Regions from separate parts of the Homo sapiens genome. Here region 1 is linked to region 2. The links come from fine-mapping of genetic effects on plasma protein levels. A gene starts in region 2. The other region holds a variant in brackets. All regions are shown on one strand. Distances are between the middles of the regions. Region 1 overlaps LY9 (lymphocyte antigen 9). Region 2 holds the start of LY9 (lymphocyte antigen 9).

What was found. PIP is the chance, under the fine-mapping model, that this variant and not a neighbour inherited with it causes the effect. The UK Biobank Pharma Proteomics Project read protein levels with antibody pairs (Olink). The fine-mapping took linkage between variants from a reference panel, not from the people measured, so its PIPs are less certain.
Region 1: its variant is fine-mapped to the plasma level of the LY9 protein (UK Biobank, PIP 0.98). The variant lies in the coding sequence of LY9. If it changes the protein, the assay may bind it differently, which can mimic a change of level.

The regions. Positions count from the first base shown.
Region 1 is chr1:160,811,178-160,816,554 of GRCh38, reverse strand. It overlaps LY9 (lymphocyte antigen 9), which reads right to left. Exons shown (of 10, transcript NM_002348.4): 3 at 2,644-2,919; 4 at 1,794-2,135. Among named protein-coding and RNA genes, the nearest start is that of LY9, 18 kb to the right of the region's middle. The variant G/T (reference allele first, on the strand shown) is at 2,788.
Region 2 is chr1:160,794,088-160,799,464 of GRCh38, reverse strand. It overlaps LY9 (lymphocyte antigen 9), which reads right to left and starts at 3,291. Exons shown (of 10, transcript NM_002348.4): 1 at 3,154-3,291. The coding sequence starts at 3,277.

The DNA.
Region 1 (5,377 bases), 17 kb before region 2:
GCCCCCTGAGCAGTCACCTGTCTTCATTCATTGAAAATATATTCATGAAGCTGAGTGTTGATACTGCCGGCAAAGTGCCTCCAGGAGCCACAGGAATTTTGGAGTATACCTGGCATTTTCCTCACTACTTGTGACATCTCAGACACACCTCTTTGCCTCTTGATGCTCAGGTGAGAAACAAGGGAAATGATGAAAAGTGAAGAAAGAAAGACACAACCTCATTCTATACAGTTAGTTACAGCTGTGAAAGCAAGCAAACCAATCAACACAGATGAGCGCAACACTTCCATGTGCTGTGAAGACCCTTCAAGGCTTGGCTTTGAGGCTGATTTGTTTACTTATATGAGATAAGGGATGCAGAGAGGTGAGCGCTGTACCTGACACAGAGTAAATGTTCAATAAATGTTAGCAACTTTAAAAGAAACAATAAGACTGACTCTATTTGTTTCCTGTTTATTATTTTTACTTAACCTTGTGGGTTCCTTTATATTTGAGGCATTGTGTGCAATAGGCATGGACTTGGCCGACTTGCTTCATATTTTAACAAAACCATGATAGTGACTCTTCACAGATACCTAGACATTGACAAACTCAGGCAGGGGGTATGCTGACCATGTCTGAATGGCACAAGTGAAGGAACAGGTAAACATAAACCATGCAAATTGCCAAGCCAAGCTCCTGTGAGGCCCAGGGCTGAGGAGGTAGAATGCAAATTCTGTTCCTCACCCCCAGGGGAACTGAGTGGCCCACCTTCTTGGAGGCCACAGTGTCTTTGGACACCAAGGGCTTCTCCTCAGTCTTCTCTGATTTCACCCCAGCCAACTTTGGCCTTATTCAAAATGATAATAGTTTATAAAAATGCAGGTTGGGGCCAGGTGCCATGGCTCATGCCTGTAATCCCAGCACTTTGGGAGGCTGAGGCAGCGGATCACCTGAGGTCAGGAGTTTGAGACTTGCCTGGCCAATATGGCAAAACCCTATCTCTACTAAAAGTACAAAAATTAGCTGGTTGTGGTGGCGTGTGCCTGTAGTCCCAGCTACTTGGGAGGCTGAGGCAGAAGAATCCCTTGAACTTGGTAGTCAGAGGTTGCAGTGAGCTGAGATCGTGCCACTGTACTCCAGCCTGGGTGACAGAGCATGACTCCATCTCAAAAATTTAAAAATGCAGGTTGGTGAGTTCCCAGTCCCTTTGTTTTGTTTTGTTTTGTTTTTTTTAGACGGAGTCTTGCTCTTTCTCTCAGGCTGGAGTGAAGTGGCATGATCTCGGCTCACTGAAACCTCCGCCCCTTGGGGTTCGAGCGATTTTCCTGCCTCAGCCTCTAGAGTAGCTTGGATTACAGGCGCCCACCACCGAACCCAGCTAATTTTTGTGTTTTTAGTAGAGACGGGGTTTACCATGTTGGCCAGCCTGGTCTCAAATTCCTGACCTCAGGTGATTCACCTGCCTCAGCCTCCCAAAGTACCGGGATTATAGGTGTGAGCCACCGCACCTGGCCTCCTAGTCCCTTCTGACACTCAGTGCAGAAGGACCGGGGCAAGCACCTAAAGTTGGGTGGTGGAGGCCTAACTGGCAGCCTAGAGCCAGGGGCACTTTGGCGGGTAGACTTGTCCAGCAGCTAGTCATGAGTTTGCCTCCTATGAATCAACTGGTGTGAACTGAACAGCTGTCCTAGTGGTCTGAGGCATTTCAGTATGAGGGAAGACCCTTGGAGAAGCGGAAGGTGGAGAAGGCAGCAGAGGAGAAAGCTTTCAGAGAAGGAATCTGGTGATGGGTGCCCTGCCCAGAGACTCACGGTAGATGAGCAGGGTGACATGTGTCATGCTGGTGACGCTGGAGGCCTCTGAGCACACGTAGGCATGGTAGGGGCCGGCGTCCTCTATCTTCAGCTGGCTGATCTTCAGGGAGCAGTCCTGGCTGGAGACCCACACCCTGTTCTTGTAAGGATCCCTGGATTTAATGAGTGGATCTGCCGTTGCTGCTTCTTCCCTCTCTTTGCTAATGATGGATGTGTTAAACAACCAGACAACCTTCTCTGTGTCCCGGCAGGCTGGGAGTGCAAGTGGCAGGGTGACTGGCTCTCCCAGGACCCCTACCACAGTCTCCCCCGTTGTTCCTCCTCTGGAGGCTCCTGGATCTGGGGTCACAGATGAGACATTGCAGCTTCAGTCACTGTCCCTACTCCCTTGGCCCCCAGGCATCCTAAAGGGGACTGAGGGGACTGAAGTCCCTCCTCCTCTTCCTCTTTCTCCTGGCCTCCTCCTCTGAGGGGCATGCCTGCTACTTCTCCATGACCACCTGTTCCACTGGGCTGTGCCCACTGAATACTTGGACTCTCATGTCCCCTCTCTGCCCTTCTGAGGGTACCCGGAAACACCTCCACCCAAGCAAAGACCAATCTGGACTCCTGTATCCATATTGTCTTCTCCTCCCTTGCTCTAACCTTAGAGTATCACAGTGTTCTGGGCTTTCCCAAGTCCTGCCAGCCTCTGTCATGTCCCTGAGAGTAGAGAATAAGGGGTTTTGGGGCCTGTCCTCTTGCTTCCCCACCCCCTGTGTGTCTGACCAGGATCCTAGGGTTTAGACTCCACAGCTGCTCATATTGTTTCTGGAATTCCCTCAAGGGCCAAGTTGGAGCCAGTTACCTGTACAGAACTGCCCAACATGGACAGGGAGGGAGCTTCTCTGGCTGACGGGGTTCTGGGCTGTGCAGATGTATGGCAGGTCTGGGTCACATGGTGTTCGGGAGACGGTAAGAATGGAGCCTCCATTGGACTCAGAAGCATGGG[G/T]TTCCCTTGGGGTCCAGCTGTACAGAACACTTTTCTCTGCCCCCTTCACGGAGCACATTAGAGTGATGTTACAGGAGAAGTTCTCAGACACCTTCACAGACTTCATGGTGACTTGGGGCTCCTGCAGCTGCTCTGCAGGGACAACAGCATGGGAAGATGCTCAGATCCTTTTGCCAGCAGGAAAGCGCTGAGAGAAGAAGGGAGTGACAATAGGGGAGTTGGGGGCAGCAGAGAGAGGCCAGCGTTACCTGTCGCAGGGACATCTTCTCTGCAGGCTGGGTTGACAGCCTCTCCTCTGTACTCCCATAACATCCGCTACAGGTGTTATCACCATGACTCAGCATGACTAATAGTCTGATTACTTCTCTCTCTCCCCGACCAGTGTAAGAACTCCTTGATGACAGGGCTGATTCCTGTGTCTGAACATCTAACACCCAGCCTGCCTTATGAAAAACACTCATGAATGTTCAATGAATAAATAGGTGAATGGCCCAGCCCCAAACGCTATGGAGTGGGGACCTCTGCTTCTAGAATTTGAGTTGCCCGTGTCTTTGGTCTGAATTTAGGATGCATTGTGCTTCTAGATCTTCTTCCTTGTCTTCTCCTTTCCTTTTGTTCCATCTCCACTGCTCACCATGTATGTGCACATGTGTGAATGTTTCATTAAGTTATATTTCTTTTTTGAGACAGAGTCTCACTCTGTTACCCAGGCTAGAGTGCAGTGGCGTGATCACTGCTCACTGCAACCTCTGCCTCCTGGGTTCAAGCGATTCTCCTGCCTCAGCCTCCTGAGTAGCTGGGATTACAGGCACACAGCACCACACCCGGCTAATTTTTGTATTTTTAGTAGAGATGAAGTTTCACCAGTTGGCCAGGCTGGTCTCGAACTCCTGACCTCAGGTGATCTGTCTGCCTTGGCCTCCCAAAGTGCTGGGATTACAGGCATGAGCCACTGCACCTGGCCCAATATTTCTTCTTTTGAATAGGTAATACATTAAAAAAAATTGAGAAAATACCAAAGCTACATAATGAAAAAAGTAAGCTTTCTAGCCTCCAGCCATTTATTTCATCTCCCCAAGAATTACTATTCCTGGAGGCAATTACTGTTATGGGTTTCTTGTTGATCTTTCCAGAGGTATTCTAGATATAGACAGATATATGCATACTTTACACACTGTTTTGAACCTTAAAAAATTAACAATATATCTTGGAAATTATTGTACGTCATTTGTCAACACATGTGGAGTTGATTCATTCTAATTCTATTAACTGCACAGAATTCCGTTTCCTTAATAGATACAGAATACCCTACAAATCAATGAAAACGGTCAAATTATCTGATAGAAAGATGGTGTTATGAGCTAAACTGTGTCTCTGCAAAGTTTAGATGTTGAAGTCTTAACCTCTAGCACCTCAGAATGTGACCGTATTTGAAGATAGAACTATATTTGGAGATAGAAGTAATTAAGTTAAAATGGGGCCATTAGGGTGGGCCCTAGTCTGATATGAGTGGTATCCTTATAAGAAGATGAGATTAGAGCACAGACAATATAGACAGAGGGACACCCATGTGAAGACATGGAGAGAAAGTGGCCATGTGGGAGCCAAGGAGAGAGGCCGCAGAAGAAACCAAGCCGCTGATACCTTCATTGGCCTCCAGAATTGTGTTCTGGAGAAATGTGGAATACGTTTCTGTTGTTTAAGCTAGTCAGTCTGCAGTATTTTGTTATGGCAGCCCTAGAAAACTAACACAGATTTTGATACCAGAAGTGGGATGAAGCTCTAAAAATCTAAAAATGTGAAGTGGCTTTGGAATGGGCTGATGGGTGGAGATTGGAAGAATTTTGAGGTGTGTGCTAGAAAAATCCTAGATTGTCTTCAAGAGACTCTGGGTAGAAACATGAATGTTAACGAAAATTTGGGTGAGCACTCAGAAAGAAAATAGGAACACTGCAGGGAATGCTGCTATTACCTTAGAGATATACATATGTGATCATGAGCAGAATGTTGGTAAAAATATAAATATTAAATGTGTTGCTGGTGAGGTCTCAGACAGAAATTAGAAATATGTTACTGGAAACTGGAGGAAAGGGCATACTTGTTGTAAAGTGGCAAAGAACTCGGCCACGTTGTATTCTAGTGTTTTGTGGAAAGCAGAATGTTTAAGTGATAAATTTGGGTACTTAGCTGTGGAGATTTCTAATCAAAGAGCTGAAGGCACTGCCTAGTTTCTCCTTGCTACTTATATAAAATGTGAGAAGAGAGAGAGAGGTTAAATAAGGAATTGTCAAGCAAGATGGAGCCAGAACTTAAAGCTTTGAAAAAATGTCACCTATTCATATTGCGAAAAACGAGAAAGTGTGTCTGGAGAGAACACAAAGATTGTGGCTTGGCAATGTTTGCTAAAGAGGTTATGAGATTTGACCACCTCAGCAGAAATGCTGCCAGTCTGGACTGTAAGGGACAGAGACAGGACAAATGAAGGAGTGTGTCAGGCTTCTGGGATTTTATGAAATAAGTCAATACAGCTGTACAGCTGCAAATATGTATTATCCTTCAAGAAAAGGGAAGAGTGACCCCACAGGCAGTT
Region 2 (5,377 bases):
TCAGTGAATCTTATCTAAAAGATTGAAATGCTCATACCTGCACCATTTTCTTCAAGGGATATGGTAAAAATGAAATGAAAGCAGGTTGCTGCAAATTGTGAAGAGCCAATGAAGTAAAAAGGAGCATATTTTTAAAAATATGGGTGGGTAGAGGGATGGTTAGATGGGCAGGCGAGTGATAAAGCAAGCAAAGTAAAACGTTTGTGTTAGAATCTAGGTAGTAGGCCTATGAATGTTCAGGGTAAATGCTCCAACTTTTCTGAATGTTTGAGAACTCTCATAGCAGTGTCGGGAACTAAAGGAGCTTCTCCTACCTCTACCTCACCCTTATTGTCCATGGCATCTCAGATTGACTTTGGTTTGGCCAGGTTTGGGGGTGGGAATAGCTGGTGGTACTAATACAGTTCCTGATTTCCTCATCTTAGGCAAGATCATATTCCTGATAAACATTGTTACCAAGGCATCTAGGAAGCTGGTATTTGGCCAAGGCAGTTAATTTTCTTGTAGGGACCCTGTGGGTGTCTTCTGGGTGACCCTAGCTTGGATTCCCAGATTCCAGGGCTTCCGAGGCTCTGGAGAGCACTTTTGAAATTCTAGACCAAAACAGATGGGTTTGGGACCCAGACTCCACCAGGAATTCTGGGTGGGAAAATAAGTAGAAAATGTTAGAGACAAAAAAGGAGCATAAGCATAGCCTGGAGGGGCGGAAGAAAGCTGAAGCAAGCTCTGAAAACCCAGAGGATACAGAATATGCAGACACTGGAAGGAGAGAGGCTGCTTGGTGCAGGTCATGGGGGTTCTCTGCTTAGACCTCCATCAGCCAAGCACTTGCACCTTGTGGAGAGGCAGCTATGGAGCATGCAGGGCTAGGGATCCTGGACATGAGAAGGTTGGGTCAGGTGGATTCTTTAGGCAGATTCAGGCTGAGTTGATGTGAGGTTGGTTTGAGGTTTTCTAAAAGAGAGCTCTTCCCATCTGGAAGAGACTGCTTACGATTGCTATGTGTGCATTAGGTACTTTATGTAAATTATCTCATTTAATTCTCATAACTATACTATAATTAGCCCCTTTTTACAGATGAGGAGCTGAAATTTAGAGAATTTAATCCACTTCCCTGAGATTACAGGGTTGATCAGTCACAGAGTCCAGATCCTATGTCCATGATGCCCCTGGAGTAGGGAGGCCAGGAGTACTGCCCATCTGTATCCTGGAAGCCCAGGAGCTGCTGGGTCTTGACTGGGTGCATATGACTCGTTTTGACTTCAAATTTTCTTACATCAGACAAAAACCATAAACAAAAGCCTCACAGACTCTCAGTGGAGGGGGCAGGATGTGGGCCTCACAGGGCAAATCTTGTTGCAGAAGACAGTGCAATGCAGCTCCCAGTACAATGACAGGTCCCCAGTACCAGTCATTTTATTTTGAATTGCACCGTAGGACAAATAATAAAAGAGCATTCAAAGATTGCAAAACTGAATTTGACTCACCTGTCTCTTAATAGTTTCCAAAGAATGCACGTAACAGTAATTATAATAATAACAATCATAGCTTCTGCCAACTATGTGCCACTATACGTGTGTGTGTGTGTGTGTGTGTGTGTGTATAGATCATCTACAATCTGTAAGAGTGTTGCATGATGCATCCTACTAACTATATTTTACACTTAAGAAATAGAGGCCCTCATCACTAATAAATGATGGAGCAATGATTTAATTTCAGATGTTCCTGATACTAAAGTGAGAGGGGTCTTTTCACTCGACTGCCTTTTAAGTTCCTGAAATGACTCTTTGGAGATACAAAAGCATCATCCTTTCAGACCAAAAGAGTGAGATTTGAGGTCATCCTAATCAGTGGAGCCAGACCAATGGAGATGCCTCTTTGCTCTGAACTGTTTGAAATTCACTGCATTGATCATTTGCGGCTTGGATGACCTTGAATGTAGCTTATTTCAGGTTTGCTCAACACAATCAAGGAACACCCCAAAGGTTGGAGGTAAACATAAACAGCCTTGCTGCTTTCTGTGTGTTTTGATGAGCCAAGATAAAATTGAAAGTGAAAAGAGGTCAGACTGGACCTCAGCTCTGAGGTCTAGGCTCCTCGTTCACCCATATCTGCATCTAGGAGTGTTTCTAAAGCTCCCTTCAGGCACCAACTGCCAACCCCCACTGCTCTCAGATCTCTAGTGCTACCTGCACCATCATCCCTGAAGCCCTGGAGAAAGCGGGAGCACAGAAGGACAGTAGCTGCCACAGTCCCAGGTGGCTGAGATCCTCTCTGGGGTACTGGATTGGCTCTATCTGCTGGACAGTGGGGTTCCGGGCCATGCAGCGGAGAGATGTTTCCCAGGAGTTGGGCCTTGATAGGGAGGAATAAGGTTGAGGAGAAAAGGATATCCAGATAAACGCCACCTTGCCCATGGTCACCTAACCGCGTCCAGGTCCCCAGTGAAACCTCAGTAATAAAGCCAGCATATATGATAACCAAGGCAGGATACATAGAAAGAAGCTCCAGAAGTTCTCTCCATCCCTAGGAAATTGCTAGGTGGCTTCTCATCAGGGGATTTTCCTGGATCCCTCTGTGGGTTTTATCCACACCATACAGGGAACAAACTCATTATATACTTGGCATTTCTTAGGAAAATGTGAGGGCAAGAGAAATGTAGTTTGAGCCCAGAGCTATTTGAGACCGGGGCTAGAATGTTACCCCCTTCATAGTGCACGAATATGCACACATGCAAAGTAATTTCTGGCAAGGAGATGAGTTTCCCGATTTTACCAACAAGAACTGGGCTCACGCCTGTAATCCCAGCACTTCAGGTGGCTGAGCTGGGCAGATCACGAGGTCAAGAGATCGAGACCACCGTGGCCAACATAGTGAAACCCTGCCCCTACTAAAAATACAAAGATTAGCTGGGTGTGTTGGCATGCACCTGTAATCCCAGCTACTCAAGAGGCTGAGGTAGGAGAATCGCTTGAACCCAGGAGGTGGAGGTTGCAGTGAGCCGAGATTGCGCCACTTCACTCCAGCCTGGCAACAGAGTGAGACTCCGTTAAAAAAAACAAAAAACAAAAAAAAGAATCTCCCAGGCAGGGAATGCAACTGGCCTCAGAAGAACCGCAGTAGCAAGAAGTGGTGGCCATAAAGTGGACTTACCCATGAGCAGGAAGAGGAGAGAGGTCTGTAGAACAGAAGAGAATATTTGCAGCTGACTCCTCTGTGGCTTACTGGAGAAAGGCCCAGGAGCCCAGTCATCTGTGTGACTCTTTGGTGCCACCATGATGATCTATTTTCAGAACTGAGACTGAAGGAGGATGCACTTACCACAGCTTCCGCACGTGTCACAGCTTCTGCATGTGTATATGAGTGTGTGTGTGCATGTGTATGTGTATGTGTGTGTGTCTCAGAGGGAGGGTTGTTTATACAAAACACCACAGACTCCTCCCATCTGCGCAGGCAGGTAGAGGTCCCAAGTCTATTCAGGGCCTCATTTGTGACTGATGTGGAGCATCACTTGCTTTGACATCAAGGGACTTGGGTTCTAAATTTGGCTCCTAAAGGTGACTGCTAAAGATCTGTACCTCCTGGCATTCATGCCTCTGTGTAATCACCTCTTCTTTAGTGTGGCCTGGATTTAGTGACTTGCTTCAAGTGAATAGAATGTGGCAGAGATGTGGGATGGGTCACTTCTGAGATTAGGTTACAAAAAAGCTGTGACTTCCATCTTGGGTTAGCATGTGTGTGCATATGCGCTCTCTCTTTCTCTTGCCCTCTCTCCCTCTCTGTCTTTCCCACTATCTCTGTCTCCCTACCTTACACTGAGGGGAGCCAGGTATTGTTTTGTGAGATACTTTAGGGAGAGGGTTCCAAAACAAAGAACAGAGGGAGGCCCCCAGCCAACAATCGGCGAGGAGCTGATTCCTCTGGCCAACTGTCCATGAGGACTGAGGCTAGCCAAGAATCACATGAGTGAGACTGGAAGTGGATCCTCCCCAGGAGGTCCTTGAAATGACTGCAGCCCTGGCTGACACCGTGATGTTAGTTGTGTGAGTACCTTAAGCCAGAGGCACCCAGCTAAGCCATGCCCAGATTCCTTATCAAGAGAAACTGTGAGATAATAAATGTTTGGTTTTTAAATTTTTTTTCAATTTTTTATTTTTCATCAAAAATGCTTATTGTTTTTAGCTGTGAAGTTTGGGGCAATTTGTTACACAGCAACAGATAACTAATACAGTGACCCAATACATTTTCTATTTTGCTCAAGGCAGTTTGTGCTAGCTTTCTGTCACATGCAATGAAGGACTTTTAATATGGACAAAGGCATCAGGGAGACTGCAATGGGGGTGGACATCGTATGTGACAGCGTAGAGGTGACTGAGTTGAAAAGGTAGGCTGGAGAATGGCATGATTCCCTATATCCTGACTTGGGAAACTGTCTTTTTCTCCTCCTTCTTCTTGTCAGTAGCGTAATAGCTGGCCATGCTATGGTTTGTGTTTCGGGCTTCAGGTCATTTGTTTACTTAGGCTGTAACATTAAGGGGACTTGGCAGGAAAACTTGAGGCTGGCAGAATGTGTAGTTTTAGCTAATATTCGATGAAAGCTTACAGAGTGCTAGTCCATCTTCTGACACTTTAACATATTCACTCATTTGATCTTACAATAGTTTTATGAGATATCTTTTATCATCCCCATTCTATAAATGAGAAAACTGAGGTGGAGAGGGGTTAAATAGCTTACTATAAGTTTTATAGTTAGTAAGGACTTGAACCCAGGAAGTCTGGGTTCAAAGGAAGAAGGGAGAGAGAGAGAGAAACCATTAAGATAACAGGCTTATGTCCATGGAAAGCATCTTTAGAGGCTGGTCATGATCTGATGTTGCACAATATTGAAAGTGACAGAATCTCGAAAATCTTTAAATTTTGTGCACTAGGAGCGTGTCTTGTTTCACTCTAGCCTTGGTCCTGTGACTAGAACATGGGCTGTCTAGAGGGGATTGCAGGACATACGGTCAGGAGAGGTTACCAGAGCCCAGATAAAGCATCCTGTTACCAAGCTAAAGGCAACAAGAATCCAGTAGGAGTAGGAAGCTTCCTGGAGCTGCAGAGTGGAGGGAGAATGGGTGGAAGGGATGAGCCTGGGGATGAGAAGACAGGTGCGGAAGCTATTGAAGGAGTCTGGGTACAGAACATGAGAGCAGGAACAGTCTGCATGGGAGGCGAGGGCAAAGGCAGAAGGGAATTCAGAGAGATTGGTAATAATAAAAATCATTACTAACATTTATTGGGTAATTACTATGAGTGAGCCTCTGTGTTTAGAACTTTACATATGTTTTCTCCTTTAATCCTAAGATAGACCCTATTTGGATGATACTCCAATTAT